Homo sapiens: one gene and its partners. The protein of the gene in region 4 purifies or fractionates together with the protein of the main gene of each other region. This does not show direct contact. Each region holds a gene or a part of one and is shown on either strand. Other genes may lie near its edges.

Region 1 (7,031 bases), on a different chromosome or scaffold from region 4:
TGCACCTGGTGCCTCCCCCATGGGTGGTCATGAGGCCGTTTAGCAATAGTAGCTTGAGTTGTAGCAGCCAGGTCCTGTGCCAGCTCTTTGCTTATTGGAGGATGTCCATGGGAAGGGCTTACTCCAAAGAGCCTGGCAGGCACAAGGGCTTCAGGAATTGGGTTCTCACTGTGAAGATGTTTGCTGAATCATGGCAATGTGAAGTAGGGAGCAGAAGCAGAAGGAGAGTGGGGAGAACTGATGGACAGGTGAATGGAGGCCAAACCTCAGGAAGGCCTGAGCCTTGGGGCACTTTCCTCTTTTTTTCAGCCCCCTCCTGTGTCATGTCCTCACTATCTACCAGGACCTGTGCCTTGTAGGATCTCATTGTAGCCTCCTAACATCCCTTTTGAGTTGATGTTTAAGAGTCTCATTTTATAGAAGAGCAAACTGAGGTTCAGAGACCATGCCCAGAGCATAGCACCCTTGGTAGGGAGAAGCAGAGCCAGGCATTGAAATGAGTGTATCTGCTGCCTAGCCCTCTGCTGTCTTCCCCTCTACTCTCCTGTCTGCATTGATTGGCCCCTCGTTTTATATGGGTATTCCTCCTCCCCACCCCCAATCTCCTTCCAGGTCCAGGAGCTGATCATCAACAAAGACCCCACACTACTGGACAACTTCCTGGATGTGAGTGACTGACAGAAGAGAAAGGGGTGTGGTGTAGGGGAAAGGGGATGTGGATCCTTGTGTAGCCCTGATCCACTTTCTCTCTAACATTGGCAGGAGATCATCGCATTCCAAGCAGACAAGTCAATCGAAGTGCGAAAATTTGTCATCGGCTTCATCGAGGAGGCATGGTATGGGGCGAGGCACGGAGCCCCGGGAGCATTCTCACTGGTGGCAGCCTTCAGCTCGTGGCCTGGCCTGGAGGCCACCACTGAGAGGCCTGCCCTCTGCTTCCCAGACCCTTTCTCTCTCTCATACACACTGATTCCCCAGCAAATACTTAATAAGATGGAAACCCTGGGGTCATCTGTGATTCCTCTGCTTCTTCCACACTTCACATCTACATTATCACTAAGGACTGTGGGCTCCACTTTGAGAATATCTGTAGCATCTGACCGTTTGTCAATCACTTCCTCTGCCACTATGCAGGCCCAAGCCACCCTTTCCTCCTACCTGATGACTTCAGTGGTCTCTCTCTGGCTCCCTTCTTTTTCTTTTTAGTTAAATTGAAATTCATATAACAAAATTAGCTTTTTTTTTTAATCTTTTGTTTGTTTGTTTGTTTTGAGACGGAGTCTCGCTCAACTGTTGTCCAGGCTTGAGTGCAGTGGCGCAATCTCGGCTCACTGCAACCTCCGACTTCCGGGTTCAAGCTATTCTCCTGCCTCAGCCTCCCAAGTAGCTGGGATTACAGGCATGCGCCACCACATCCGGCTTATTTTTGTATTTTTAGTAGAGAAGGGGTTTTGCAATGTTGGCCAGGCTGGTCTCAAACTCCTGACCTCAGGTGATCTGCCCGCCTTGGCCTCCCAAAGTGTTGGGATTACAGGTGTGAGTCACTGTGCCTGGCCTTTTTTTTTTTTTTGAGACTGAGTTTTGCTCTGTTGTCCAGGCTGGAGTACAGTGGCGCAATCTTGGCTCATTACAACCTCCACCTCCCAGGCTCAAGAGATTCTTGTGCCTCAGCCTCCTTGAATAGCTGGGATTACAGGTGCGTGCCACCATGCCTGGCTAATTTTTGTATTTTTAGTAGAGATGGGGTTTCTGCCATGTTGGCCAGGCCAGTCTTGAACTCCTGACCTCAAGTGATTGGCCCACCTTGGCCTCCCAAAGTGCGGGGATTACAGGCATGAGCCACGACGCCCAGCAAAAATCAGCTATTTTAAAGTGAACAAGTGAGTGGCATTTAGCACGTTCACAATCTCGTTCCAGGGCATTTCATCCCCCAAAGAGGAATCACCGCACTCATTTCCCGCTTCCACTCTTGCACTCAGCAGCCAGAGTGACGCTGTTAAATGTAAATCAGTCTTGGCACACCCCTGCTCTCAGACCCCAGCTGGCTCATCAGCTTACTTAGGTGGAAACCCAAACTCTCACTTCGGCTTCATCTCACTTCTGATCCTCTCTGTCTCCCCTGCTCCTCAGAAGTCACAGTTGGATTTCGCAGCCTGTCTGCTTGCTGTTCCTGCTAGGGGCCCTCGTCCCCAGGTTGCCACCTGGCTCTCCCCTCCCTTCCCTCAGGTCTCTTCCTCAGAAATTCCTTCCTGCCCGCTCCCATGCAGCCCCATGTCTCAGGCACCCCACCTTCACTGTTCTTTACAGTGTTCCTCACTCATTGAAATAACCTTGATTCTTCCCGCAAAATATCAGCTCTGTGAGGACGGGGCTTGACTTTTTCTGTCTTGCTGGCCACTTTGTCCCCAGTACCTGCCTGGAGCAGTGTTGTCACCTAGTAGGGGCTGACTACGTATTTGTTGCACACGTGAATGAGTTGAACATAACAGTCACCACATGGAACACGTACTGTGCCCTGCGCTGTGTCAGGTCCTTTCCCGTGTTATCTCCGTAATTATGGCAGCCTCGATGGATACTGTGGTTATCCTCTTTTTACAGAAAGGGAAACAGGCTCAGAATGGTCAAGTGACTTGTTCAAGCTGGTCACTTGCTCATTTGTTTATTAAAGCTTTACTGGATGCTTTGTGACTGGGAGGAAGTAGACTAGCTACTGTGTATTAAATATTTGTTTGTAAGGCACTGTATTAAATGCTTGAGCAGCTTCATTATTCGTAATACTATGGATCAGTTGTTTGACCCTTTAACTGAAGAGAAAACAGTCTCAGAGAGGTGAAGTGAATTTTCTTAAGGTCACACAGCCAGAATGTGGCAAGGCTGGGATTTTATTTATTTATTATTTTTTTGAGATGGAATCTCACTCTGTCGGCCAGACTGGGGTGCAGTGGTGCAATCTCGGCTGACTACAACCTCTGCCTCCTGAGTCAAGTGATTGTCCTCCCTCAGCCCCCCCGAGTATCTGGGATTACAGGTGCCTGCCACCACACCCAGCTAATTTTGTTTTCTGTTGTTGTTTTTTTTTGTTTTTGTTTTTGTTTTTGTTTTGAGATGGAGTTTCGCTCTTGTTGCCCAGGCTGGAGTGCAATGGTGCGATCTCGGCTAACTGCAACCTCCACCACACAGGTTCAAGTGATTCTCCTGCCTCAGCCTCCCAAGTAGCTGGAGTTACAGGTGCCCGCCACCATGCCCGGCCAATTTTGTATTTTTAGTAGAGATGGGGTTTCACCACGTTGGTCAAGCTGGTCTCAAACTCCTGACCTCAGGTGACCCACCTGCCTCAGCCTCCCAAAGTGCTGGGATTACAGGCGTGAGCCACTGCGCCTGGCCAAGGCTGGGATTTTAACTCATGTCTGCAATGCCAGAACCCAAATATCCTATCTCCCCATTTACTGGGAGAATTTGTGGTAAATTTTCTGAATTTGTAAAAAGTCCATTCAGCAAATACATACCATGTGACTGCTGTCGTACCAGGCATCCATGTTAGGCTGTAGTATAGCAGTGAGCAAAAACGTATTATTCCTGCCTTCATGTAGCTGACAGCTAAGTTTCATATTTTTTGACTGATTTAATTAATATTTCAGATTGTAATGTATGCTGTGAAAATTCTGTGCTGAGCTCCTATTTATTCATTGAACATTTGTTGGAGGCCCTTCATTTTTTTCTTCAATGAAAATGACCCTGCTGGGGTTATTGCCAAGCTAGGAAAGGGTCCCTACTTTTTGAGCCCTCAGACTGAGGCAAGCAAAACTAGTGATTACAGAAAACAAAGTGCTTTAAAGTAGCAATGGCTGGTGTTTACCGAATGCTTTTTGGTGTTTACTGAATGCTTTCTGCATGTCAGGCACTCTTCTAAGCACTTTACAAGTATTGTTGCAATTTTCCCAAAAAATTGCATAAACAATTGGATAGATACTATTATTCTAAATGAGGTGAAGTCGCTTGTCCAAATTCACACAGTTGTCTGCCCCTACTGTCCCTTATGTGAACAGCAGGGCCCTGAGAGAGCAAAGGAGTTGGTGTTACAGGACCAGTCTAGATAGAGGGTTCAGGGGCGGCTCAGTCTGGAGGCACCAAGCACTGTTCCCAGCTTCTGGATGTGCCATTCCGGTCCCCTGAGACAGGTCCCTGATTTCCCTTCCCTCCTGGACCTCAGGCTCCTCCTACTTGCTCTAAGACCACACCTTGACCTCGCCCCTTTTTTCTCCATCCCTCAGCAAGCGAGACATTGAGTTGCTGCTGAAACTCATTGCAAACCTCAACATGCTCTTGAGGGACGAGAATGTGAACGTGGTGAAGAAGGCTATCCTCACCATGACCCAGCTCTACAAGGTGGCCCTGCAGGTGAGAGCGCCCTCCCCACCCAGGGCCATCCTGCCTGATATGTCTCGTTGACAAACTAATATGTTGGGGTTCAAAACCAGCATCCGAGCATACTCTTTATGGGCAAGATGTGCCACTGGTCTGTGGGAACAGATAACATGGAGAGCTAACGTTGTCTCCTAGGTCAGGAAGTTGCACTTAACCTTCATTCCTTCCATTGACCATCCGTTTATTCACTCAACAGACATTCCCTGAGTATGTCCTCTGTGCTTAGCCCTGGGCTAGGTGATGCTGGGGACACAGCAGTGACCAAGACAGCTTACTGCCTTCACAGTGCTCATAACCCAAGGAGGGAGGTAGACCTTAATTAATGAATCACATAAATATTGATTATGGAGTGTGATAGGAAAAGAACACTCTATGGTGTGATGTACATTAGCATTAATAAAACGAATGAATCCATTTAATCACCACCACCTTGTGAAGTCAGCACTGTTAGTCCTTTACCCTGAAGATGTGTGCCTTCATCACACTGAGTGGTCACTCTCTGCATCCCCATGAGGGCAGGGCGAGGCCTGGCCACTACTCAGTCCTGTCTCCAGCATCACCGAGCACTGGGCTGGGGCAGAGTTGGAACTCAGTAACTGTTAACCAAATGAATGTATTCATCATTCATGGTTCTCTGGGTATTGGCAGAGGGTGTTGGTGATTGATGCGTTGTCTTCACCTCTTTGTGTGTCTCTTCCATTCCTTCCTGGCCTGCTGGCAGTGGATGGTAAAGTCACGGGTCATTAGCGAGCTACAGGAGGCCTGCTGGGACATGGTATCTGCCATGGCGGGGGACATCATCCTGCTATTGGACTCTGACAATGACGGCATCCGCACCCACGCCATCAAGTTTGTGGAGGGCCTCATTGTCACCCTGTCACCCCGCATGGCTGACTCAGAGATACCCCGACGCCAGGAGCATGATATCAGCCTGGACCGCATCCCTCGTGACCACCCCTACATCCAGTACAGTGAGTACTGCCTTCAGCTGCCACCCCTGACAGCCCTGCACCAGTTTCCTCTCCTTCACGCCCCTCCCTCTCTCCCCCTTGTCTTTTTTGGTTTTAAATTTCTGGAACAGTGTGTGCAGTAGTTAAGATCCCTGGTGCTAGGTTCAGATCCCAGCTGCACTGCTTACTCATCATGAACTTGGGCAAGTTACCTGTCTCTGTACTTCATTTTCTTTTTTGTAAATTGGAGACGATAACATAGTACCACTCTCACAGGTTTGTAGTGAAGTTCCATGAGTGTGAGCCAGTCGATGCTAGCTAGTTTTATGGTTTTCTTTTTTTTTTTTTTGAGATGGAGTCTTCCTCTGTCGCCCAGGCTGGAGTGCAATGGCACAATCTCAGCTCACTGCAACCTCCGCCTTCCGGGTTCAAGAGATTCTTCTGCCTCAGCCTCCAAAGTAGCTGGGGCTACAGGCTCCCGCCACCATACCTGGCCAATTTTTTTAAAAATTATTTTTAGTAGAAGCAGGGTTTCACCATATTGGCCAAGCTGGTATCGAACTCCTGACCTTGTGATCCGCCCGCCTTGGCCTCCCAAAGTGCTGGGATTACGGGCTTGAGCCACCGCGCCGGGCAGTTTTACAGTTTTCTTAACTGCAAATTATAAAAGTAGGACATAGGCCAGGTGTGGTGGCTCATGCTTATAGTCCCAGCATTTTGAGAGGCCAAGGCAGGCAGATCACTTGGGGTCAGGAGTTCGAGACCACCCTGGCCAACATGGTGAAACCCCTTATCTACTGAAAATACAAAAATTAGCCGGGCATGGTGGCGGGCACCTGTAATCCCAGCTACTTGGGAGGCTGAGGCACGAGAATCGCTTGAACCCAGGAGGCAGAGGTTGCAGTGAGCTGAGACTGTGCCACTGCACTCCAGCCTGGGTGACAGAATGAGACTGTCTCAAAAAAAAAAAAAGTACTATATATACACTTGGTGTCAAGCAATATGGGTGAATCAAAAGGAATAATGTCCCCTCCCTCAGTCCTGCTTTCCAGAGATAAACACTGTTAAGAGTATTATGTTTCCTTTCAGATCTTTCCTGTGCACATGTAGGTATTTGTATGTGTATATGCATAGTGTCTGCATTTGTTTGCTTTTCTGTTTGCAAAAATGAGGCCATGCTTTGTGTTTTCATCTCAGAGACATTATAGTAGCTTGTGTCTGACACACAGCCTATTTTCCCTTGTCTCTGAGCCTGATTCCTCATTGGTAAATTGGGGATCGTTATTATGGCATCTAATTTAGGATGTAGGTATGAGCATTTGGTGTATTAATATGGCTGGAATAGTAAACATTCCATAAATATTAACTATTCTTATGTATTGTTTGACAGCCTTTTTGACTTAATAGTATCAGTGACGTCCTTCCCTGTGAGAATCATATAGTTGCTATACCATATTCCATAGTATAGTTACATTACATTCTATTAAGCAATGCTCTGTTGATGGTCATTTAGATTTTTAATTCACTTTTATTTTTTGAGACGGAGTCTCGCTCTTTCACCCAGGCTGGAGTGCAGTAGCGCTATCTCGGCTCACTGCATGCTCCGCCTCCCGTGTTCACGCCATTCTCCTGCCTCAGCCTCCCGAGTAGCTGGGA
Region 2 (7,031 bases), 3.1 Mb from region 4:
GAAATGGTTTGGCTGTGTCCCCACCCAAATCTCTTCTTGAATTGTAGTTCCCATAATCCCCACGTGTCATGGGAGGGACCCAGTAGGAGGTAATTTAATAATGGGGGTGGTTACCCTCATGCTGTTCTCATGATAGTGAGTTTTGACGAGATCTGATGATTTTTATAAGGGGCTTTTCCTGTTTTGCTCAACATTTCTTGCTGCTGCCATGTGAAGAAGGACGTGTTTGCTTCCTCTTCTGCCATGATTGTAAGTTTCCTGAGGCCTCCCTAACCATGCTGAACTGTGAGTCAATGAAACCTCTTTTCTTTATAAATTACCCAGTCTCAGGTATTTCTTTATTAGCAGCATGAGAAGGAACTAATACAGCCCCATGGCTGGCTTAAGTGTCTGCACTGGTGCTTTATCCTTGAGGCAAATGCTTCTGCTGCCTTCCCGTGCCGACAGGGAAGGATGAGGCCAACCTGTCCAGCTCCTTCAAATATAACTCCCCTCTTAGACAACCTCCCTGACATGTAGTAGGACCCCTCTGCTCCTGTACATGTGACTACTAAGCTGCGTGCACACTAGTCACTCCCTGTTTTTACAGAACCTTCTCCTGGGTGCACTTTGAGCTGTGGTCTCTATCCGTCTGGTCGGTTCCATCTGCTTTCTCTCTTTCAGTACTAATTTACCTTTCTGGGCTATCTACGGCATTCTTTCTTACCTTCCAATGCTATTATGGATTTTTAAAATCCTTCCATTATTTCTAGGGATATTTGGTAGAATGGAGCTGTCAAATAGCACTTAATTCAAACACTTTTGTTTCCATTATACAGAGTATCAAGACCTGTGTAGTACTTGGTTGTTAAGAGCAGAGTCCTGAGTCAAGTACACATGGATTTAAATGCCAGCTCTTCTTACTGTGTGAGATTAAGCAATTTTCATAATCTTTCAGAGCACCTCTTTCCTTACCTACTAAATGAGATAATTGTTATTGTGAGGCTTCAATGAGCTAATGTATGCAAAGCCCTCAGCAGAGCACCTAGCACAGAGCACTCAATGCTTAATCTTTTGGTTGTTTTTGTCAGTTTTGATTCTTAGCTTTCTTTTTAAGTTAGGCCTGGTTAATATAGGTCTGCAGAGAGCCTCTTTTCCATCCATCTTGTCTGGACAAAGAGTTTTGCCTTCCAGCCCTTTTCCCGGCCTCACCAAGAACAAGCAAGCAGTCTGACCCCCTTTCTGTTGTCCTTACAGCCCAGCTCCAGCGGCTGGAAGGGCTGAGAACCATAGGTGTTACCACCAATGGCATCAACCTGGCCCGGCTACTGCCCCAGCTTCAGAAGGCTGGTCTCAGTGCCATCAACATCAGCCTGGACACCCTGGTGCCTGCCAAGTTTGAGTTCATTGTCCGCAGGAAAGGTGAGCGGATGTGGATGGGGTGGGTGTCCCTCCCAGGGCCTGCACATAGCTGGGGAGGGCATGGCCATTGCTGAGCCAGGGGCCTGGTCACTTCCTCTTGGTGTCTGGGCTATCAGTAAGTCAAAGCACTTATTTCTCACCCCTCATCTTTGCCAAATGTATGTCAGGGACTTTGGGGGTCAGACGCTAATGACCTAGGGTGACCAACCTCCCCACCACCCCAGCCCCAGTTTGCCCAGGACTTGAGGGGGTTTTAGAATGAAGGACTTGAAGTTTTAAAACCAAGACAGTCTGTGGCAAACTGGGCCGAGTTGGTCATTCTACGATGAGCTCTGAAGAAACACGGGACAGCCCAGGGTGGAAGTAGCCACCCTGGGATGCCAGGGTCTGGGTGTATGCTGCCAGGAGGGGGTCCCCCAGCAGGCCCCCATGGTTATCCCTGTGCCCACCTGGGTATAAGCCCCTCCTATGCACCTCCTACTACAGGCACAGCCATACCCTCCACTCACCTGCCTCAGGAGGCCCAAGGTAGACAGGTGGAGCCAGCCTCGAGCTCTGGGTCACAGGAGACCAGTGCCTGGCTTCCCTTTGGCATGGACCTCATGTTGGGGCAAAGGCTCTTCAGGTTGGGATACCCTTTGATATTTGGGAGGGGGTACATGACTGAGGACTCTGGAGGATCAGAGGGGTGGCAGGGAGACCCAGATCTCCTTCCTCTTCCTTGGAAACAGCTTCAAGATCAGCCCCACCACCTTCTTTCCTTCCTTTTCTTAAACGGGGTGTGATGCCTTGCTTAATACCCTCCATGTGCTGAGGAAGCACTCATGGTGTCTCTTTCCTCTATGGAGGCCTGCTCCAGGTGCTGTGGAGGGGACAGAAGACACATAAGACATTGCCCTGTCCTTACAGGCTGCTAAGGGCCAAAAGATGTCATTCCATGGGACAGCCTTTGCTTGTCTTGTGGTACTGATTAAAGAGTTACAGAGAGGAAGAAAGAACTCTTAGCAGGAGAGAACTAGGAGGGCTTCAAGGAGGATGCATGCATGCTGGCCTTGAGGAACTGGAGGGTTTCAATCAATGGCACATACTCTGAGGGGGAGCAGGAGTACAGAACCTGCAAGGGCTCTACGGTGGGAAAGTGGGAGGTGGATCTGTGGGCTGTACTGCCCGCAAACACGTTCTCCCTTTTTGTCTCTTATTTCCTGGCACATGGATTGGAGACATCAGATCTTCCCTCCCATTCATACTCTTTTGTCCACCACCTGCCTTTGGAGGGGAGTGTTTTACAGAAAAGAAAACTTATAGTTCTAGGTTATCCTAGCAGCATTATTTTTTTCAAAGCTATACATTTTTCCCTTTACCCTCTCACTGAGCAGTCTGAAAATGCTGCAAGGAAACCATGGAGGCCATCTCTAGGCACCCTGTCTCACAGGTGACCACCCAGGCTGTGCAGGCTGGGGGTGCTGGAGGGGGCCAGGATGCAGTAGGTGATCAAGTGATTGGATGCATGAGAGAACTGGGCAGTGAGAAGTCAGCCTGGGGTCACATTGACTGTGGTTAATGATTGTTGAGACAATAATTGCTTACCAGCCCTGGAACAGCACCTGTGCGTAGTAGGTGCTCAGAGAGTATGTGTTGAGTGAATAATTGATGGACTGTTGAGGAAAAAACACTGAAACGGGAGTGGAAAACCTGCATTCTGAAAGATGGAGCCATGGGGCTTTGAGCAGAGCATTGCCTCACTCTGGGTCTTGGTTTCCTCCCGTAGACTACAAGAGGGTTCAACTAGATCCAGGGTCAGCATGCTATGGCCCACAGGCCACATCTAGCCCCCTGCCTGTTTTCATGTAGCCTTTGAGCCAAGAATGCATTTTACAGATAGCATTCAAAATCAGTTAATGATAGGGAACATTAACTATGAACCCCATTTAAGCAAAATATTGTCCCTGCAAAAAGAATCGCATTATTGTATCCCATTTGTAGATCTGTTTTACAAGACACTGTAGTCAGTTATTACTATTACATTTTGAATTTAGCCAACACTTTGTGACATGTACTTACACGGATCCTCAATTTTGCCTCTTGGCTTGCAAAGCCTACGATATTACTCTGGCCTGTTTTAGAAAACGTTTGCCAATCTCCAGACTAGATGGGCTCTGGTGCTTTTCTGTGGGGGTGTGGGGGAAGAGGAGAGAGGACAGAAGTTCCTGGATCCTTGTTTCTCCCTCCCAGGCTTCCACAAGGTCATGGAGGGCATCCACAAGGCCATCGAGCTGGGCTACAACCCTGTGAAGGTGAGGCCGTGCCCCTGCCGTAGATTCCCGACTTCCCTCCACACTGCCCTGGCCTTCCCCTCACCGCCCCTTGGCCCACTTGAGAGCCCTCAGCTCTGGCCAGCATGGCTGAAGTACGTGCACCCTTCCACCTCTTCTCTCCCTGCTGGTCCAGCCCTGCCGACCCTTGAGAGAAACGAGAAAATCAGTGACCCCAAGGAATCCCGTAACTTAGAGAACTGAGTGGGAGAAGCAAGGAATGGGTCCCTGAGTGGAAGGCCTCAGTGAGTGCCAGGCCCCCAAGGGTCATCTCCACAAAAGAATGCAGGGGGCACAGCCCTCATGGTCCCATTGTTCCCCGGCCAGGTGAACTGTGTGGTGATGCGAGGCCTTAACGAGGATGAACTCCTGGACTTTGCGGCCTTGACTGAGGGCCTCCCCCTGGATGTGCGCTTCATAGAGTATATGCCCTTTGATGGTCAGTGACCAGGGATGGGTTGAGGGAGGGAAGAAGGGGTTGGGCCTGCAGGTCGCATAGTGTGGCTCACCCACTGGGTATGGCTGACCTCAGGGGCAGTGAGTCTAGGATTATGATGGGCTGTTGGTGGCTTCTCGGAGCCCGCTGTGGATGTGATTCAATCCACCAGTTTTAGGCAGAGCCCCCGTCCCTCCCTTCCAAGAGGCTGGAGAACTGATTGCTATGCTGTGGCAGGGGATGGACTCAAAGACCCCGGGGCCCCTTCAACTGTGATTCAGAAGCTCCCCTTGCCTTCCCCCATCCCGAATACAGGCAACAAGTGGAACTTCAAGAAGATGGTCAGCTATAAGGAGATGCTAGACACTGTCCGGCAGCAGTGGCCAGAGCTGGAGAAGGTGCCAGAGGAGGAATCCAGCACAGCCAAGGTTAGGGAGCAGGAGGGTGTGGGGCAGGCCTGGAGGAAGGTCGTACCTCCACCCTAGGATGGAGAGCTAGCAGGGAGCTGCACTGTGGTGGGGATGCTGTGATGTGGGATGGTACCATTTAAGCAGGAAGCATCAGTGCTATCACAACCACCTCCCTGTTTCATGGATGAAGATGTGGGCTCGGCTAGGGTGGGGGGCTCAGTAACATGTCAGAGGACACACTCCAGGAAGTGGCAGAGAGGGGTGCTCATCCCGCTTCCACGCAGACTTTTCTAAACATGCTGCCCACAGGTCCCTGCCTTAGCAGCTTTTATCTAGGGCAAGCCAGGCATAGGTCAACCCATGGGTCATCCATCCTACCAGAGTCTTCTATCACCTGAGGGCCTTGGGTGGAGCTTCACGTGGGGTCCTCTGGGAGAGGGTTGAGGAGTGGAGGTTCTGATGTCATGGAGTGAGAAACTGGGCTCAGTAGCCCATCCCCTCCACTGCCCTTTTGCTCCCACTCTCCCCTGCCCAGGCCTTTAAAATCCCTGGCTTCCAAGGCCAGATCAGCTTCATCACATCCATGTCTGAGCATTTCTGTGGGACCTGCAACCGCCTGCGAATCACAGCTGATGGGAACCTCAAGGTGAGCATCCCCTCCTCCACAGGGACCCCTTGCCACCTCTGTGTTCTCATGTCTCCTCCCACCTGTGCTCCCTGATTGGAGAGGAGGCTGGCAGGGCACGGTGTCGGGGGAGGTGGTTGGTGCAATAATGTCAGGTTTGGGGGCATGATGGGAGCAGCAGGTGAGGGTGAACTCATGGCCCCTCTGGAAATGTCACCCTGATTCCTTCCTTCCTTCTGTGGGGCCCTGAAGTAGCTTCTGGTTTATTGGGAGCTCCTTTCCAGCTCTCATGGAGCTGCAGGATCAATGTGCATTTTGCCTGGCCCCCGCCATGGTTAGCCCCTTCCACCAGGCCAGGGGCTCAGCTCTGAAACCAGAAATGGATGTTACTCATATCTAACAAGCATGTCCTGTGCATTCGTCCCTGTGGGGGATGTCGGGACCCCTTCTCGTCAGGGCTATGCAGACTCACAGGCAAGACCAAACAGAGGCAATGTGTGGCAGCACGAGAGTCCTTGCCACACGCGTGGCTAGATAGCCTGTGAGAGTGCAGGGCATCAAGAGCACTACAGACCTCAGCGAGCCTTGAAGAATGGGTGGGGCAGAAGTGGGGAGGGGAGGGTGCATACATAGGGTTCATACTGGTTGGGCGGGCTAGGGCAGATTAAAGTCAGCTATGGGAAGACTACATTGTAGGGGGCTTTGGTTCAGAATGTGTTCTGTGGACAATAGTGTGCTGCGTAAGGTTCCTGAACAGGGGAGACATCCCCCATGTATGTTTTATAAGCCACAGGCTGGGTGTGATGGCAGGAAGACCAATTAGGTGGCCATTCAGTGGTTCTCCAAATATGTTAGAGTGTGAATTGAAGGGAAGGAAGACTCAGAGAGCTTGGTAATGTTCGCGGAAGGAGAGGAGGAAGGCATCAAGGTAGCTGGAAGGCCTTGGGATCTTTTACAATTGTGGGAGGGTGATGATGGTGGGTTGGGTTTAGATGCATGCAGTTTGAATCCAAAAGGAACCATCCAGCAGGTTGCTGAAAAGCTTGGGGGTTTTTCTGGGCTGGAGATACGGAATTGACTTGGACTAGAGGTGGTATCTGTATCTGTGAGGTCTTGGCAGGAAATGGAAGGTGGGATTCTGAAGAGAATGTAATGAAGAAGCTATTTATAACATATAAGATTAAGGGAACCAATAAAGGATATTGAGGTACTTGGGACCAGCAGCAGCAAAGTGCTGTTCCCACTTAGGAAGGGCAAGGGGGAGGCACTGATGTCACTGGGGCCCAGGAAGGGCTGGAGCCTTAGAAGAGAGGCCACCTCATTGGCACTTGAGCTGTGCAGAGAAGCAGCTGCTGCCAGATACATCAAAGCAGGGAGGAAGTAGGGGAGAAATGCCTGAAGATTGTTCTTTCCCTTTACCCATTGATCTCCCAGGCAGGAGCCAGCTGGGGGGCGGGAGGGGAGGGTGGTACCAGGTGAAGTCCACAGGAGGAACCTCTTTGTTGCAGAGAAGGGAACCTGGAGGCTGGTTGGGGAGCGAGGCATGAGGAATAACAGGCACGCTGAAGCAGTTAGACCTATCCTAGATTTCACTGGTATCTTCTCCAGTGGTCTCTGCCTGCAGAAGCTTCTCAGACATTCTTCTTTCTCTGTGGCCACAGTGCCTTGTGCAGAGCTGGCACAGAGTAGATGCTTCATAAGTTTTGGTGGAAGGATGGTAGGTATATTGATTTCTGGGGCTGTCTCATCCATCCCTCTTACAGAAGCTGAGAAGCATTGAGTGAAGTTTGACCTTAAGTTGTCATGCCCAGCAGCCCTCAGCTGAAGCTTCCAAGCAGTGATCACAG
Region 3 (7,041 bases), on a different chromosome or scaffold from region 4:
TTTTTTGAGACGGGAGTCTTGCTCTGTCGCCCAGGCTGGAGTGCAGTGGCATGATCTCGGCTCACTGCAACCTCCGCCTCCCGGGTTCAAGCGATTCTCCTGCCTCAGCCTCCCAAGTACCTGGGACTACAGGCGAGCTTCACCACACTCGGCTAATTTTTGTATTTTTAGTAGAGACAGGGTCTCACTATATTGGTCAGGCTGATCTCGAACCCCTGACCTCAAGTGATCCACCCACCTGCGCCTCCCAAAGTGCTGGGATTACAGGCACGAGCCACCGCGCTGGCCTGTAAACATTTTTAAACTGTAACTTTTTCCACCTCCCATTATTCTCAGTGACAAATTTAACTTTAACAAGTCAATTTTAAAATAAGACCTTCAATTTGCAGTTGTTATTCCCAACATAAACAAGTAATATACATACCATGACGCTTAATATCTGATAAACAATCAGTATTTGCTGAATGAATGAATGGCCATTAAGGCTGCAAGACTCTTAGGACAGTAGGCAACCAAGTAAAACAAATTTATTAAAACGCTCAGAATGACTGGAGCAGGAACCAGTAACTAAATCCTGTCATACATGATTCCATTACTTGTTTGCATTACTATTCTTTTAAAATGAAAATTATGAGAAATCGGCCAGGCGCAGTAGTGGCTCACGCCTATAATCCCAGCACTTTGAGAGGCCGAGGCGGGTGGATCACCTGAGCTCAGGAGTTTGAGACCAGCCTGATCAACATGGTGAAACCCGTCTTTAATAAAAATACAAAAAATTAGCCAGGCATGGTGGTGGGCGCCTGTAATCCCAGCTACTTGGGAGGCTGAGGCAGGAGAATCGCTTGAACCCGGGAGGCAGAGGTTGCAGTGGGCCGAGATCATGCCACTGCACTCCAGCCTGGGCGACAGAGCAAGACTCCCGTCTCAAAAAAAAAAAAAAAAAAAAAAAAAAAAGAGCGAAACTCCATCTCAAAATAAATAAAAAAGTTTATAGGTTAATAACCACAGCACTCCAGCCTGGGCAACAAGAGCCAAATTCCAACTCAAAAAAAAAAAAAAAAAGAAGAAGAAAATTATGAGAAATCAAACTATTTCCTTTGCTACTTTCTCCATGCTAAAACTTAAAAGCATTTAAATCATACTTTAAAAGAATAAACCCAAAGTGTTGCTAACATTTACGTTCCGCCAACTTTTGCTACTCCAATTTTCTAAAGATGTGTATAACGCTTTAGACTGTTGTATAAAACGTAAATACTGGGACAATGAATGCAAACGAAATTACAATTAAGTTTACATATTATCCATCCCCATTAATTAACATTTCAATCAACCTTGAATTGTGATTGATGCTTATTAAATAAAGGAAGTGAGCTATGCCTAAAGATGCTTTCTTCATGTCAAAATCACAAGGAATATTACACATTAATTCATAATGAGCCTTTTACTTGTTCATACCAATTCTAATAAGCTAGTTAATTAGGATTTAAGTTGAGAAAAAAGCAAATATCAAATCTTTTTTTTTAACAGAAAGGTCTAAACAAAGCTAAATACACCAAATCTCTTAAAATCTTTGGGCTATACATTTGTAAAAATTATTCAACTACTGATCCCTTTTTTGGCGCAAAGACCTACACTACTTACAAAAGTAAATGAATAAGGGAACAAAACGTTAAAGGGGGAAATTCTGATGCAAACTAAACTACAGCTAATTTAACAAAATTGAAGCTTGTCGTAAGATCTAATTTTTTAAAAAGTTTTCGCATTTTAGATTCCACAACACGCATTCATTACAATAGTTCCGAAAATCATGTTTCAAAAGAGGTGTAGTCAGATTGACTTCATCTGCAGAAGGGCAACAAAACCCAATTGCTCATGAAGGGTTATGATTTTACTCGCAATCAGTTTCCCGAATGGCTACTTTGTTTCATTTCCCCATATTTAATACAAATACACAATGAGATGGTTTAAAAGTGTGCAACAATTTATAGGGACCAGATGTCAACAAATTAGCAGTCTAAAGCAAGGCTGACAAATAATACATCATGCCGATTTTTGTCCAGAATAATTATAATGGCGGAGGGGGGAGAAGATGTGAGAGAAGGGGTGGGAGAGGGGAATAAGAGCTTAACTCTACACGCACATCTCCCAAAAAGAGCTCTTTCTTTCCACCACGGGATTATTGTAAAGGGCCCCCAAGCTTTAGCTACTGTTCAGGCAGGGTGCGTTAGTTGTCAGCCTGGCTGGGATGGATTCGTGCAAGGGATGTCACTCAAACGCAAGTGAAAGTACGGTCCTTGCGACTTATTTCGAGTTTTCTTTGCAACAGCAGCCCAAGGCCGCTACTCTGCTACTTCTATCTAAAAAACAGAAAATCGGCAACCCCCGCATCATCAATCAAGCTGAGAAAGGAAGCTCTTGGGGCAAAGGGGCAACAGGGCACCCCCAAATCTCTGAGGCTCGCTCCAGGCAGAGGCAGCAACCTGAGCTGCTCTGGGGCCCCTGCGCTCCAGGGGACTCCCGGAGCCCCCGGGCCGCCTCCCCCGGCCGGCGCGGCGGGGAGGGCCCCACTCCACACCCCGGGCTCGCCCCGCGGTCCAGCCCCAGGGAGGTTAACCCCTTCGGCGCCCTCCACGCCCTCCCCAAGCGGGGCCCGGAGCCCCCGCCCTTCGACCTCCCCGGGACTAGGGGGTCCGGGTGGCTCAGGGGACGAAGGCGCGGCGGGCGCGGAGGCGGCGGGTGGCTCCGGCCTAGGCCCGGGCAGCGTGTCCCAGCGCCCTCCCCCACTCCCACACGCTCGCTCCGGGCAGGGCGCGGACGCCCGCCCGCCGCGGCGTCCGCCCGCCCGGGGCTCGGGCCCCTTCCGGCCGAAGGCGCAGACCGGCGGCTACCTGCGGGCTGTGGAGGGCCATGGCTGCCCGTTTCATTGGGACTCCGCGATCCTCCGGCTGCTCACGCTGCTTCCCCCGCCGCCGCCATCTTCTCGCCCGCACATACACACTCGCATCGGCCGCCGCGCCTGCGCACTGGCCGCGCGCCGCGGGGCGCGGGGAGGCCGGCCCGCTGCTGCGCCTGCGCGGCCGACAGGTGGGCGTGCGCCTGCCGGGCCGCGGACATCCCCTGCCCCGCCTGGAGCCTGCCGGACTCTGAGCCCCGCGACCCTCGGGCGGAAGCGGCCGGGCGGCTGCACACCAGGAGCCCGCCGAGGCCTGGCTGTGGATCCGGAAGGGGAGAGGGCAGGCAGGTAGAGGTGGCAACGCCAAGGCGCCGGCGGGCCCGGCTCCTCACCTACTGGGGGCCACCTGGGCCCCCGGAGCCCGGGAGTCGCGGGCTGAGGTCGGCCTGGGGCCCACGAGCCGCCCTCAGCGTACCTGGGCCCGGGCCTCGGGAGTGTTCGCATTAGATCCCCGAGGAGGGTCTGGTTTATGAAGATCCCGTTGCCGCGCATTCATTCATTTGTTCACTCTTCATTCACTCCCCAAGTCCTGCCTGGGCGCCTGGGCCACGCCTTTGGCTAGGCATTAGGGGAAAAAAGCAAAACAGACAAAAACAAAACGTAGGGCATAAAAGCACGCGTAAAGTGCTTGACATGAGGCCTGGCAAGTAGCAAACACTCAGCAAGTGCTACGTGTTGCACACGTGCGTGCGTGTGCACGGGCAAACCAGCCTTGGGGGTCGTTGGTTCATTCATTATTAAGAAACAGGGGCCCCTGCCTAACTGCACTGTTTTCCAGCCAGTGGGTCCACCCTTGGGTTTTGGCCCCTTTTCTAGCTGTGATTTCAGACAAGCGACTTTCCTTCCCTAAGCCTTGGTTTCCTCACCTGTGAATAAGACAAATATGTCATAACGCGTAAGATTTCTGTGAGGTTCAAATTAGATTAACGTGAGCACACTGGCCAAGAGAATAGTCAATAAAAATTGGCTACTGGGATTGTTATTAATAACCATTACTATTGGTTTCATTTATTCAACAAACACCTACAGAGAGTCTGCTCTTGCTAGACCGTACACTGAGCAGAGGAGATGAACAGGAAGATCCATTCCCACGTTACATAAAATAGGGAGCCTGGTCTCTTCATAAATGGGATGCCATGAAAAATATAAGTGGGCCAGGCGCAGCGGCTCACACCCGGAATCCCACACATTGGGAGGCCGAGGCGGGCGGATCACTTGAAGTCAGGAGTTGGAGACCAGCCTGGCTAATATGATGAAACCCCAACTCTACTAAAAATACAAAAATTGGTGGGATGTAGTGTGGCACACCAGGCGTCCCAGCTACTCAGGAGGCTGAGGTGGGAGGATCACTTGAACCCCGGAGACGGAGGTTGCGGTGAGCCGAGATCGTGCCACTGCACTCCAGCCTGGGTGACAGAGCGAGTCTCTGTCTCAAAAAAAAAAAAAGAAAGAAAGAAAGAAAGAAAAGAAAAGAAAAATATAAGTGGTAGGGAGGGGTTGTTCCAAAATAGAAGAGCTAGAAAACATAACCAAATACAATGTGTCATCTTGCTTGGATCCTGATATGTCTTTTAAGCTGGTTTTACTATTTGTTGACAATTGGAGACATTTGAATATGGATTGGATATGGGTGATCTTCGTGAATTATTGGTAATTTTATAGTGTAATAATTATACTGTGCTCACTGAGAGAATGTCCTTATTGTGAGGAGATGCATTCTGAAGAGTTGAGGAGTGAAGGCCATAATGCCTGTAAACTATTGTTTAATGGTTCAACAAAAGATAAAATCATGTACACACATAAACATTCAGGGAGAGACAGCAAATATGGCAAAATGTTTACTATTGTTGGCTCTAAGTAGTGCTATATATTTCAGCTTTTCTCTATGTTTGAAAATTTTTATAACAAAAAATTGGGGAAAACAATACAATATAGTGTCTGTGCTATAATTTTAACCATGGAAAAGCGATATCTGCACTTGGATAGAAACTGGGGGACGTGAAAACTCACTAGTGATTTATGGTTGTCTCTCTGGCTCGGTGCGGTGGCTCACACCTGTAATCTCAGCACTTTGGAAGGCTGAGGTGGGTGGATCACCTGAGGTCGGGAGTTCAAGACCAGCCTGATCAACATGGTGAAGCCCCGTCTCTACTAAAAATACAAAAATTAGTCGGGCGTGGTGGCAGGCGCCTGTAATCCCAGCTACTCAGGAGGCTGAGGCAGAAGAATCGCTTGAACCCGGGAGGCAGAGGTTGCAGTGAGCCGAGATGGCACCATTGCACTCCAGCCTGGACAACAAGAGTGAAACTCTGTCTCAAAAAAAAAAAAAAAAAAAAACATATATATATATATATATATATATATATATATATATATATATATATAGTTGTTTGTCTGATTTTTATCATACAGTTGCTTGAACAACAAATAAAAGTGATAATAAACAAAAGATCCCAGGCCAGGCACGGTGGCTCACGCCTGTAATCCCAGCACTTTGGGAGGCTGAGGCGGGTGGATCACCTGAGGTCAAAAGTTCGAGACTAGCCTGGCCAACATGGTGAAACCCCGTCTCTACTAAAAATACAAAAATTAGCTGGGCATGGTGGCGGGCACCTGTAATCCCAGCTACCTGGGGGGCCTAGGCAGGAAAATTGCTTGAACCCGGGAGGCGGAGGTTGCAGTGAGCTGAGATCACACCATCTCACTCCAGCCTGGGGGACAAAAGTGAGACTTTGTCTCACAAATAAATAAATATATAAATAAATAAATAAAAAAGATCCCAGTCTTCATTTTCAAATAATTCACATAGATATGAACACATACCTTCAGTACAAGGAAATAGATGTTAAAAGGAAGCTATGAACAAGCACTATGGCCTTCAGTGCTTAGCAGAGCCTGGTGATATACTTCGGCTGTGTCCCCACCCAAATCTCATCTTGGATTGTAATAATCCCCACGTGTCAAGAGTGGGGCCACGTGGTGATAATTGAATCATTGGCGTGGTTTTCCCCATACTGTTCTCATGGTAGTGAGTAAGTCTCACAAGATCTAATGTTTGTGTGTGTGTGTGTGTGTGTGTGTGTGTGTGTGGTTTTTTTGGTTTGTTTGGTTGTTTTTTTGTTTTTGTTTTTGTTTTTGTTTTTGAGACAGTCTTGCTCTGTCGCCCAGGCTGGAGTGCAGTGGCAGGATCTCAGCTCACCGTAACCTCCGCCTTCTGGGTTCAAGTGATTCTCCTGCCTCAGCTTCTGGAGTAGCTGGGACTACAGGCATGTGACACCACGCCCGGCTAATTTTCGTATTTTTAGTAGAGATGGGGTTTCACCATGATGGCCAGGCTGGTCTTGAACTCCTGACCTCAAGTGATCTGCCCACGTCAGCCTCCCAAAGTGCTGGGAATACAGGCGTGAGCCACCACGCCCAGCCTCTAATGGTTTTACAAATGAGAGTTCCCCTGCACAAGCTCTCTTGCCTGCCGCCATGTTAAGCGTGACTTTGCTCCTCATTTGCCTTCCGCCATGATTGTGAGGCCTCCCTTGCCATGTGGAACTGTGAGTCAATTAAACCTCTTTGCTTTATAAATTACCTAGCTTGGGTATGTATGTCTTTATTAGCAGCATGACAACCGACTAATACACCTGGTATCTCCCATGAGTCTGGGGACAGTGGCCTAGGCCTGGAGTCAAGACAGGCCCAAGTTCAAATCTGGAATCCCCCACTCACTAGCTGTGTGAACCTGGGCAAGTTACCTACATTTTCTGTGAATCTTTTGTAGAAGGTGGTGTGATGGGCAGAATAATGCCCCTCCCCTCAAAGATGTCCATGCCCCAACCTCAGAACCTGTGGATATATTACTTTACATGGTAAAAGGAACATTGCAAATGTGGTAATGTTAAAGGCTTTGAGATGGATTATCCTGGGAAATAACCTAATTATGACATGACTGGTGGGTCCCAAGTAATCACAAGGGTCCTTATGAGGGAAAGAAGGAGGGGCAAGAGAGTCAGGTCACAAGGAGATGTGAAAATAGAAGCAGAAAGAGAGAGGGAGAGATTTGAAGATGCTGCGCTGCTGGTGCCACGAGCCAAGGA
Region 4 (4,577 bases):
CCCGCCCTGCCCCATGCCCTCACCCCTCAATAGGTCGCGGGCCACGGCCGCGGGCTCCAGGCCCCCGCCGTCCTCCTCGCGGTCCCGGGCCCCGCGGGGACGTCGGGCCCCGGCCCCGGCCCCGGCCCCGGCGCGGTAGTTAGCTCCCGGCATCAGCTGGCAGTAGCGCTCGGAAGACGAATGGCGCCGCTTCCGCTCACGGCAGCCCCTGCCCCGCCTCTTCCGGCGTTCCCGGTCTCAACGTGGTGACGAATGGGCAGAAAACTGCGCGGTCGAGGGCCAGGGAGCCGGGCCCAAAGGATAACCCGCTCTGGAGACATTGTCGCAACCTTCTGCCCGAGTCGCAGGGTGCTGGGTTCCACGCCCGAGAAGCTTGGACCAGGCCTTGGTGGCATTTGGTTTCCTAATACCCTTGGCTGAGAAGCCAGAACCTCAGGGTGCTTGTCCTCGGCACCCTGCCCCCACTGCAAACTCCAGCCTTCTCCACCATATTCCACAAAAACACACAACACGTTTGGAGATTTTAATTAATTTTTATAAAATCTGAGCTGGCTGAACTTCAGAGTACAGCGACAGCTCAAGGAAGGGTGGGATTTATCTGCTGGTCCCCACCTCCCCAAGACGGGGAGAAGGAGGTCTCATGCCAACAGCTGCAACTCCTTTCAGCTCCCAGTCAAGGCTCAAGGCTCAAGCAGAGGGGAGGGGATAGGCAAAGGGGGAGGGGGAAGCTCCTGAGGCTCAGACACTGCTTGCTTCTCCCTTCTCCCCATTCCCTTCCCTTCCCAGCAGAACCTGGCTGGCCCTGGGCAGAGCTGAGGCCCAGGAGCAGCTGAAAGGAGGTGGATGGGGACAGAGCACCAAGGGGAAGGGGCCCTCGGCCCAAGGGGGGAGGAACCTAGCCCCCACCCCGCTACAGCTCCCCACTGAATTCACAGCACAGAGAACACCTCTCGCCCAACAACTCCACATGGAGGTATACCAAGTCCAGGGGTCAAAGGAGCAGGTGGGTGACAGATGGGCAGGGGCAGTGAAGATGACAGCAGGCTCAGGAGGGGAGGTGGCAGAAACTTCCTCCTACCCATGGGAGGAGACGATGGGGCGACTGATATTGCTGTTGGTGGTCATGGCATTCAGCTCCCACCTGGAAGGCCAACAATAAGAGACAGAAAGAAGAGGGGGCCCTCAGCCCAAGCTAAGGGATGTTTGAACCAAGCTAAAAACACACCAGTCTCTCCAACTTCCTAAAGGTCAACCACCCACAGCCACCTCTTACTTAAGAGACCTACTAGGTTGAACAATCAGAACCCACCCACCACCAAATCCAACACCACCCACTCCTCTACCTCCAAGCTCATATGGATTTCCGGTTTATGTTTATGTATGTATGTATATTGCAGTGTCCAGGCACCTGAGATCTGTGTATACATGTCAGTCAACATCCCAACCTGCCTTTCCTGCTTTGCTTAGAGCCAACCAGGCAGCCCCTCCACCTTACCCTCACCAGGAATGCCTCACCCCACCAGGAATACCCATTTTTGCTCTTAACTCCCATCCTTTTAAGGCTCTGACTCAGCACTCCTATCCTTCCTGAGGCCTTCCCCACCCACCCAACCATATTAATTTTTTTTTTGAGTCTTGTTCTGTCACCTAGGCTGGAGTACAGTGGTGCAGTGGCACAATCTTGACTCACTGAAACCCCCGCCTCCCGGGTTCAAGCAATTCTCTTGCCTCAACCTCCCAAGTAGCTGGGACTACTGGTGGCTGCCACTATGCCCAGCTAATTTTTGTATTTTTAGTATAGACAGGGCTTCACCATGTGGCCAGGATGGTCTCGAACTCCTGACCTCAACTGATTTGCCCACCTCAACCTCCCGAAGTGATGGGATTACAGGTATGAGCCACCATGCCCAGCCAGCAAGAGTTAAACTGAACTGATACAAAGAGACGAAGTATCTCAGAATGACCCAGACAGGAAAAATTATATACAAAGTAACATCTGGTGGTTAATTTGAACCTGAAAAATTATACATAAAGTAACATCTGGTGGTTAATTGGAACCTAAGAACGAAATTCAAAGGGAAGCAGCCAGATCTTCTGGAACCAATGTGATCCAGAGGCTCCTAAACTTGTCTTTACTTTGCAGCTAGGTTCTAAGATTTAATCAGTTGTTCTCAGCATGGTCACAAAAATAACTGTATAAGCTTAGGTCTCAGAAAGTGATGCTGCCGAGCTGTATTTTTTTTTCATATAATTTATTCTGCTGACAGTTTTATATGATGGCTGTCAATTCACCTCCTTCCATCTCATTTCCCACAAGTACACTACATCTCCAGCAGAACAAAAATGTCTGTCTCCTCCATACTGAAACCAAGCTAATCAGGTCACACCTGTGCTGCTCACTCACCCTCACTCAATCCCTCCCTTCCAACCACTCGCTGTACCTGATATCATGAGGCAAACAGGACTGGTCTAGGTTATACTGAATCACGGCCAGTTTGCACAGAGTCTTCAGACTAGGGCCTTTAAGGGAGAAGTTGTGGAAAGGAGATGGTCAAAGGTGAGGAAAGGATCCAGTCCTGGATATCACCACCCAAAGACAGGGACCTTGATGGCAGGAGCAATTCAGGAATAACTATACTTACTAAAGTCCAAAATGTGTAAGTCAGAATGATCTATAAGGTCAAATTCATCTCCCAGGCCTTCCTCAGGAGATGGACTGTCGGGATCAAAAGAGAGATGAAAGTAGGACAAAAACTACCCACGAAACCCCCTTTTCAAATACCTCCCACTCTCCCATTAGTGACTTCCCTGAGCCCCTTCCCTCTCTCCTTCTAACCTGGTACCCCCAAAGAGGACAATCTTGTCACCAACAATACAGCAGCACTGGCGCCGGCGGGGACATGGCCCCTTCCCCTTCGGTTCAATCTTTTTCCAGGTAAAGGACACTGAAGAGAAATTTATATGGAAGTTCAATACCTGCCTAGTCCAGGTATCTTCCCCACCCCCATCCCTCACCGCCTCAGGATTATTTTCTTTTCCTCCCACCTCAATTGCTCCTTGTTCCTGCCCTAAATGCAGTGCTCTTTACCAGGATTAAACTTCCAGAGGTCATGGAAGTGCCGGTTCAGCCTTGCATTATAACCACCAAAGATGTACAGCTCCCCATTGTAGCCAACTGGAAGGAGAGAGGAAGTGTCAGGAGTGTGAAGAGGGCAGGAAGGGAACTCCACAGGGAAGTAACAAACACTCACAGGCCGAGTGGCTCCGGCGCCCCTCAGGCAGCACTGGAGTCGGGGGACAGTCCAGCCAAGCCTCAGTTCTGGTGTCAAAGACTCGAATGCGGTTGCAGTAAATCTCATTGTTGGAATGGAATGGCCCAAAGCGGTCGGCACGGCCCCCAAAGACATACATGTGACTTCCCAGCATTGTGGCTGAGTGGAAGTCCCTCCAGCGTGCAGGGCTGCCCTGGGCAGAGGCAGAGAGATGGTGGAGGGGTCAGCACAAAGACTGGAAGAGGATCTCCTCTGACTGAGCTTCCTATCATTGCTTCAACAGAGGGTGGGGATTTGGGAAAAAAAAGAAAGAGCAGACCTTTGTACAGATAAGAGTCCATGTCATGGTGCTGGTATCTAGCTTGTGAATGTCATTGGAAAAACAGTCCGCCTGAGTAGGAAGAGAAAAGGAGGAAGAAAAGAGGGAGCCAATGGTCACTCTCTGACCCTCCATCCCTCCCCTCAAAACCTGCAAACAAGCCAAAGCCTCCCATTTCACCATCCTAAATTGCCCTTCCCCTCTTTCTCAGTCCCACCCTAAACCTCTTATTTTATTCCCAGACCTACCTGCTGCTCGTAGCCCCCAAAAATGTACATGATCTTGCCTAGGACACAGGCTGAATGTCCATCCCGGGCCCCAGGAACTGTCCCTGACACTCGGGGTGTGAACCACTTGTGCGTATCTGAAGGAGATGAGAAAATGGCTCAACTAAGCACCCTCTATGACAGTCCCTCCTCAGCTCTGGGGTACTCTACTCCCCAAGACCCCCAACCCAAACCTTTCTTGGGCAACTGAGGCAACATCTGGAAGGACATAGCCTCTCTGAGATCCATACTCACTGACGTCAAAGGCATAGAGCACATTGCAGGCCCCTTCGGTGTCATTCCGCCCGCCCCAAAGGAGGACTGTGTCGTCGATGAGGACGGTTGAGTGTCCATAGCGCATGTAGGGTACCACAGGAGCTTGCCCACGGATGGCAGACTTCACCGGGGGCAGCTTTGTCCAACGCAAGGACACTGTGGGCACAGCTCTGCTCAGCCCTGGGAACCTCCCTCCAGGCTGTCCACTTTTCCCAAACCAGATGTTTGTCCCCAATCCCCTTGGTCCCAGAGACCACAGCCAAACCTCATCAGCAGCCCGTTCCCACCCTGATGTGGGGACCCAGGGACAGCCCCAGCATTGGCTTACCTGCATTGAAAATGTGCACATCTATCTGACGCAGTGTCTCATAGTCTTCACCAGAGCAGTAACCCCCGAAGGAGTATACCCGATGCCCGACAGCCACTGCAGCATGGTTCACCCTG

What was found.
Region 1: the proteins of KLHDC3 (region 4) and SYMPK purify together in Homo sapiens (affinity purification with mass spectrometry; 4 studies listed by BioGRID and IntAct, with this or other methods). This does not show direct contact.
Region 2: the proteins of KLHDC3 (region 4) and MOCS1 purify together in Homo sapiens (affinity purification with mass spectrometry; 4 studies listed by BioGRID and IntAct, with this or other methods). This does not show direct contact.
Region 3: the proteins of KLHDC3 (region 4) and USP10 purify together in Homo sapiens (affinity purification with mass spectrometry; 3 studies listed by BioGRID and IntAct, with this or other methods). This does not show direct contact.

What each region holds. Positions count from the first base shown.
Region 1 is NC_000019.10:45,846,117-45,853,147, reverse strand, and holds part of SYMPK (symplekin), read left to right. Parts: intron 1-612; coding exon 613-666; intron 667-762; coding exon 763-836; intron 837-4,271; coding exon 4,272-4,398; intron 4,399-5,146; coding exon 5,147-5,396; intron 5,397-7,031. UniProt on the Homo sapiens protein: Scaffold protein that functions as a component of a multimolecular complex involved in histone mRNA 3'-end processing. Specific component of the tight junction (TJ) plaque, but might not be an exclusively junctional component. May have a house-keeping rule.
Region 2 is NC_000006.12:39,910,438-39,917,468, reverse strand, and holds part of MOCS1 (molybdenum cofactor biosynthesis protein 1), read left to right. Parts: intron 1-1,236; coding exon 1,237-1,401; intron 1,402-3,633; coding exon 3,634-3,695; intron 3,696-4,040; coding exon 4,041-4,152; intron 4,153-4,464; coding exon 4,465-4,577; intron 4,578-5,094; coding exon 5,095-5,205; intron 5,206-7,031. UniProt on the Homo sapiens protein: Isoform MOCS1A and isoform MOCS1B probably form a complex that catalyzes the conversion of 5'-GTP to cyclic pyranopterin monophosphate (cPMP).
Region 3 is NC_000016.10:84,695,959-84,702,999, reverse strand, and holds the start of USP10 (ubiquitin carboxyl-terminal hydrolase 10), read right to left. Parts: upstream 3,001-7,041; 5' UTR 2,925-3,000; coding exon of another isoform or gene 2,910-2,924; coding exon 2,889-2,909; intron 1-2,888. UniProt on the Homo sapiens protein: Hydrolase that can remove conjugated ubiquitin from target proteins such as p53/TP53, RPS2/us5, RPS3/us3, RPS10/eS10, BECN1, SNX3 and CFTR.
Region 4 is NC_000006.12:43,017,231-43,021,807, reverse strand, and holds the end of KLHDC3 (kelch domain-containing protein 3), read right to left. Parts: coding exon 4,462-4,577; intron 4,290-4,461; coding exon 4,113-4,289; intron 3,956-4,112; coding exon 3,840-3,955; intron 3,664-3,839; coding exon 3,592-3,663; intron 3,466-3,591; coding exon 3,252-3,465; intron 3,176-3,251; coding exon 3,089-3,175; intron 2,946-3,088; coding exon 2,837-2,945; intron 2,717-2,836; coding exon 2,643-2,716; intron 2,521-2,642; coding exon 2,442-2,520; intron 1,142-2,441; coding exon 1,075-1,141; 3' UTR 514-1,074; downstream 1-513. Other genes in the region: RRP36 (ribosomal RNA processing protein 36 homolog), read right to left, coding at 24-153. UniProt on the Homo sapiens protein: Substrate-recognition component of a Cul2-RING (CRL2) E3 ubiquitin-protein ligase complex of the DesCEND (destruction via C-end degrons) pathway, which recognizes a C-degron located at the extreme C terminus of target proteins, leading to their ubiquitination and degradation.